Linked DNA regions of Homo sapiens: region 1 is linked to region 2. The links come from fine-mapping of genetic effects on plasma protein levels. A gene starts in region 2. The other region holds a variant in brackets. All regions are shown on one strand. Distances are from middle to middle.

Region 1 (2,908 bases), 16 kb after region 2:
TCTCCGAATAGGCCGGGCATGGTGGCTCATGCCTGTAATTCCAACACTTTGGGAGACTGGGGCAGAAGGATGGCTTTTGGCCAGGAGTTCAAGGCTGCAGTGAGCTATCATAGTGCCATAACACACCAGCCTGGGCAACAGAATGAGACCCTGTCTCTTAAAATATATATATAAATATATATATTTATATATAGTTATATAAATATTTATAAATGTATAAATATCTATATATTTAATATTTATATATGTATAAATATTTATATATAATATATAAATATATTATATATACATATATATATTTTATATATTTATATATTATATATATATTATATATATATATATAATATATATATATATATGGCTGGGCACCGTTGCTTATGCCTGTAATACCAACACTCTGGGAGGCTGAGGCAGGTGGATCAGGAGTTCCAGACCAGCCTGGCCAACATGGTGAAACCCCGTTTCTACTAAAAATACAAAAAATTAGCTGGGCATGGTGTCAGGCACCTGTAATCCCCAGCTACTCAGGAGGCTGAGGCAGGAGATTCGCTTGAACTCGGGAGGCAGAGGTTGCAGTGAGCTGAGCTTGTGCCATTGCACTCCATCCTGGTCAACAAGAGTGAAACTCTGTATCAAAAAAAAAAAAAAGTATATATATGTGTGTTTGATAAATCCCAAGGATAAAGTAATTTTACTTGGCTAATTGCAATTTTATAAACTAAAAGGACAAAAAGGAATAGCTGTGACAGACGTTTCTAATGAATCATCTTTATTGCTGTAAACTCATAGAAAACTGTTAAAATTGTTACTATAGTGAATAATAAAAGGAAAGTATTTTCAAAACTTCCAGGCCAAATTGATGTGCAGAGTTTTCTTAGGTTCCAAAAACTGTAAGGGTAAAGGGACCCATACAAGACTTGAATTCATTCATTCTACACCATCCCTGACATTTGAAGGTCATCCAGCTTAAAACAAAACAAAACAAAACACTCAAGTGATAGTAAACTCACTACTTTCAAAGGAACTTTATTTAATCTTCAGGAAACTTCATTTTTAAAGTTCTTCTGTATATTGAAAAGAAATCTTTCTTCCATCTACCTCTTGGCCTGAGTCCTATCCTTTAGGACCGTACTTTCAGGAACAATTGCTCTTCATGCACCCTCTGCATCTGCTCTTTTCCAAGGTCTATCAGGTTCTTTTTTTTTTTTTTTTTTTTAAGAGACAGGGTCTCCCTATGTTGCCCAGACTGGTCTTGAACTCCTGGGCTCAAGGGATCCTCCTGCCTCAGCCTCCCAAAGTGCTAGGATTACAGGCATGAGCCACCACACCTGGCTCCAAGGCCTTTCAGTTCTGAGGATCAGTGATTTGGGTTGAGTTTGACTGTGTGGTTCTCCTGCCAGTCTTACTTGGAATCACTTATGCCGCTGCAATCATCAGGCAGTCTGACTGGGGCTAGATGGTCTAAGATGACCTCATTCCTTGTATCAAACACTGTTCTGAGCATTTTACTTGCATTATCTCTGTTACTTTCTCAACAACCTAGGAGATAAACCCTATTATTATGTTGTATTAGAAATGAATATAGGTGAAAAAGAAATTTAAAAAA[A/C]TAAAAAAGAAATGAATATAGTTGATACACTGAACAGGCGGGACTCACAGTTGTATTTGGAAAAACAACTGGCTTTCTTTTCTCCGCTTTTCATTCAAAGCTGCTCTAGAGGGATGGCTTGCTTTAGAAGCAAGCCCTGTGACTTATCTGGTCACTCTTAGATAATAAAAAGTCTGATTTTTGCTGGGCACAGTGGCACACACTTGTAGTCCCAGCTACTCAGGAGGCTGAGACAGGAGGATTATTTGAGCCCAAGAGTTCAGATCCAAGATCCAACCTGGGCAACATTGTGAGACCCCCTCTCTCTTTTTTTTTTTTTTTTTTAAGAGACAGAGTCTCACTCTGTCACTCAGGCTGGAGTGCAGTGATGCCATCACAGCTCATCGCAGCCTCTATCTCCCAGGTTTAAGTGATTCTCCCACTTCAGCCTCCCCAGTAGCAGGGACTACATGCATATGCCACCATGCCTGGCTAATTCTTTTTAATTTTTTGTAGAGATAGGGGTCTCACTGTCTTGCCCAGGCTATTCTTGAATTCCTGGGCTCAAGCAATCCTCCCATCTTGGCCTGCCAAAGTGTTGGGATTACAGGCATGAGCCACCGCGCCTGGGCTTTTTTTTCCTCTCGAGACAGGGTCTGACCAGGCATGGTGGCTCATGCCTGTAATCCTAGCACTTTGGGAGGCCAAGGTGGGAGGATAGCTTGAGCTCAGGAGTTCGAGACCAGGCTGGGCAACATGGTGAGACCTCATCGAAAAAAAAAAAAGAGGGAGGGAGGGAGAGAGACACGGTCTCACACTGTCACCCAGGCCACAGGCCCTCACCACAATGCTCAACTAATTTTTTAATTTTTTGTAGACAGGTTCTCTCCATAGTGCCCAGGCTGGTCTTGTACTCCTGGGCTCAGGGAATCCTCCTGCCTTCACCTCCAAAAATGTTGGGATTACAGGCATCAGCCACCACACCCAGCTATATTTATTTTATTTTTTTTCTTAAATGTTTTTACGTACCCAGGAAAGATCTGAGAGAAGAGTCCTATTTTAACATTCCGTTACATGAGGAAAGTAAGGCTTTAAAATTTTAAATAACTTGTTCTAGGTCACAGATAATAAAAAGAAAAATTGGATTCAAAAATTACTGTCATGGGTACTATGTTCAGAACCTGGGTGATGGGATCAATCATACCACAAACCTCAGCATCATGCAATATAACCAAGTAACAAACCTGCACATGTATCTTCAAATCTAAGATAAAAGTTAAAAAGAATGAAAGAAAGATATTCTTATTTTTCCTTGCAAAAAAA
Region 2 (2,908 bases):
GAAAGAGAACAAAGCATGTCAAAAATGCAGAGAAACTGTGCAGCTCATGAGAGAGTGATAACTGGCTGGTAGAGATTCTTATTTCTGGCAGCTTTCTTGTTCTCTTAAATGTATTCCTTCTTTCAAGGTAGTTTGAAAGAATTATATGACCTGAAGCAGGAAGAAACACTAAGAACACAAATGACTAAAAGGGTTTACACAAATTTTGTTTCCACATTTAAAAAAAAACCTCTAAAAACCTTTATCATTGAAAGTCTGAGCTAGAAGAGTCCTTGGAATCAGACCAATTCACTATTTTAGAGATGAGGACATTGAGGACCACAAAGTAATCTCAGGTTACACAGATAGTGACAGAGCAAGGACAAAACTAAGGACTCCTATTTCCGTAGCCATTACTCTCTGTCCTACACTGCACTAAATAACACCAACATAGAAACATTTTCCTCAAAACAAGTATTTTTGCAACACATTTTAGAGTGAGAAATTATTAATCAGTGAGAAGATGCAGACAGATGTAGAAAAAAGTTGACCCAGGTTAAATATGGTGAAGCCCAGAGGCAGGACTGTAAAATACCTGGATGCCTACTCTGACGAAACAAACACTTAGCGCCTCTAAGGATTCCCAAAGGACACACCTGAGGGGGAGGGGAGAGGTGAATACTTGTACCTCTGAAGCTGATCCACAGAAAAGCAGAGTCATCAATTTCCTAAGAACATTCTCAGCCATCTTAAAACAGCAAAAATTAGGAAGACGGCATATTTTAATGAATCCTTTGGTTAGGTTTAAGATAAAGTGAAGAACACACAACCCAGGATGATTAAACAAACAAAAGCACAAAACTCAAGTCCAGAGGCCACTTCGGTCACTTCAGTCATAGCTAATGAAAGTATCACAAAGGATCTTTTCATCAAATGAAGAACTAATGACGTTATAGGTCTATATTCCTAATTCTAACCACTTACAGGTGTGTGTTTTGATGGATGAGAAAACTCAAGCTTAGAGCCTTTAAGTAACCAAGATCACCAAGGCAGGCAGTGAGAGAAACCCAGGCAGGATTCGAACCCTAGCTGGCTGAGCCATTCTCATTACCGTCACAGTCAACAATCAACACGGCAGTTTAAGTTCATCCTTACCAGTCACCCAGGAGATGAGTTTTGAAGAGGGAGTTTAAAAGGGGCATCTGACTTTCTCTCTCTCCCAAAGTAGAAGAGAACTGAGCTGTCAAAAACAGAAAAAGAAGTGAGTGCGGTGCCGCCCGGGATCTACATCCCGCAGCTCCGGACCAAGCCCGCCCCGCTCGACTCGCGCAGCCCCAGCCACGCTCGGCTCTCCGCCCGAGCCGAGGCGCCGCGGCTGTCAGACGCGGAGGGGCAGAGACGCGGCCCAAAGGAAGGGACAAAGAGCCTTCCCGGCCGCGGCCGGAGGCTGCCGGCCCGTTCCTAAGCCGGGTTTCCGCAGCAGCGGCCCTAGCGGGGCGGGGACCGGGGACGGGGGCGCGGCGGGGGAGGAGCGGCCGGCTAGGCTGAGGGGCGCGCGAGAGGTGCGGGCCCGGCTGGCGGACTCGCCCCTTACTCATTACCTGGCCGTGGGCTTCTCGTCACGGTCGCCGCCGCCACGGAGCTTCTGAGCCGGGGCGACGCAGCGAGAGCTAATAAGCGGGCGTCAGCTGCGTCCCACACTGGCGAAGCAGCCTCCAGATCGAGCTGGAGAAACGCCGGTGGGTGGGAGTTGGGACGAGGTTTGTTCCCAGCTTGTGGAGATTTTACTCCGCTCGTCCCTCGCACTCGGCTTCCGCTCCGCCTCCCTGCCGGCCCTTCCCGCACTCGGGGGCCAGCCGCCCGCGGCGCGCGGCATTGTGGGGGATGTAGTCCCAGAATGAGGAAGCGGCGGCACGTGCTTCCAGCCGCCCTGCACCTACCCTGGGTCAGAACGACGCAGCTGCGCGGCAACCAGAGAGGGCGGCGGGGTCTTCTGTGTTGGAAGATGAGCCCGCCAGAGGCATACCCTCGGCCTTAACTCGCTGCAGGCGCTGGAAGAAGGGCTCTGGCGTCTTGTTCCCGACCCTCCGGTGAGGAACCAACCTCCTAATACTATTGACCTGAGGCTGGGAAAGCTTAGTGATGATTAAGTGTGCTACAGATGAGACTACCCATTATTGAAGCCAAAGGTCCTTAGCCAGTGGAGTGAGGCAAGAAAAATAAAAGGATTGAAGATTAAATAGGAAGAAACAAAATTATTTTTTCATAGATTATGTAATTATGTACGTGGAGGCCGGGCGCCGTTGGCTCATGCCTGTAATCCCAGCAGTTTGTGAGGCCAAGACGGGAGGATCACCTGAGGTCGGGAATTCGAGACCAGCCTGGCCAACATGGTGAAACCCCGTCTCTACTACAGATACGAACTTAGCAGGGCGAGGTGGCGGACGCCTGTAATTCCAGCCTCTCGGGGAGCTGAGGCGGGAGAATTGCTTGAACCCAGGAGGCGGAGGTTGCAGTGAGCTGATATCGCGCCACTGCACTCCAGCCTGGGCAACAAGAGCAGAACTCCGTCTCAAAAAAAAAAAAAAATTGTTTGTGGCACTTCAAAACAATCTGCAGATAAACTGTTAACAATAAAAGTTTTTAACAAGGTTAATAGATACAAAAATCATATTTTAAAAAATCAATATTTATTTATATATGCTAGTAAAAAAGATAATTTTTTTAAAGATACCATTTCCAACAGCTCCAAACAAATATCAAGTACCTAGGAATAAATCGATCAAAGAAATGCAAAACCTGCCTGAAGAAAACATTGGAAGACACTGAAGAAGACCTAAATAAAGATGTAACATGTTCATAAATTGGAAGAGTCAATACTGAAAAATGCCAAGTCTCTCCAAACCTACCTACAGAGCCAGTGCAATTC

Evidence for each region. A credible set is the group of variants that fine-mapping cannot tell apart. PIP is the posterior inclusion probability: the model's chance that the variant is causal. Sun 2018 read protein levels with aptamers (SomaScan).
Region 1: its variant is the best candidate, but not a certain one, in a credible set for the plasma level of the CCDC126 protein (Sun 2018, PIP 0.54).

The regions. Positions count from the first base shown.
Region 1 is chr7:23,580,617-23,583,524 of GRCh38, reverse strand. No RefSeq gene overlaps it. Among named protein-coding and RNA genes, the nearest start is that of CCDC126, 15 kb to the left of the region's middle. RefSeq lists a silencer at 2,372-2,563. The variant A/C (reference allele first, on the strand shown) is at 1,607.
Region 2 is chr7:23,596,278-23,599,185 of GRCh38, reverse strand. It overlaps CCDC126 (coiled-coil domain containing 126), which reads right to left and starts at 1,804. Exons shown (of 4, transcript NM_138771.4): 1 at 1,581-1,804; 2 at 1,135-1,219. It overlaps LOC105375187 (a long non-coding RNA gene), which reads left to right and starts at 1,861. Exons shown (of 2, transcript XR_927098.2): 1 at 1,861-2,069. RefSeq lists a silencer at 1,323-1,562.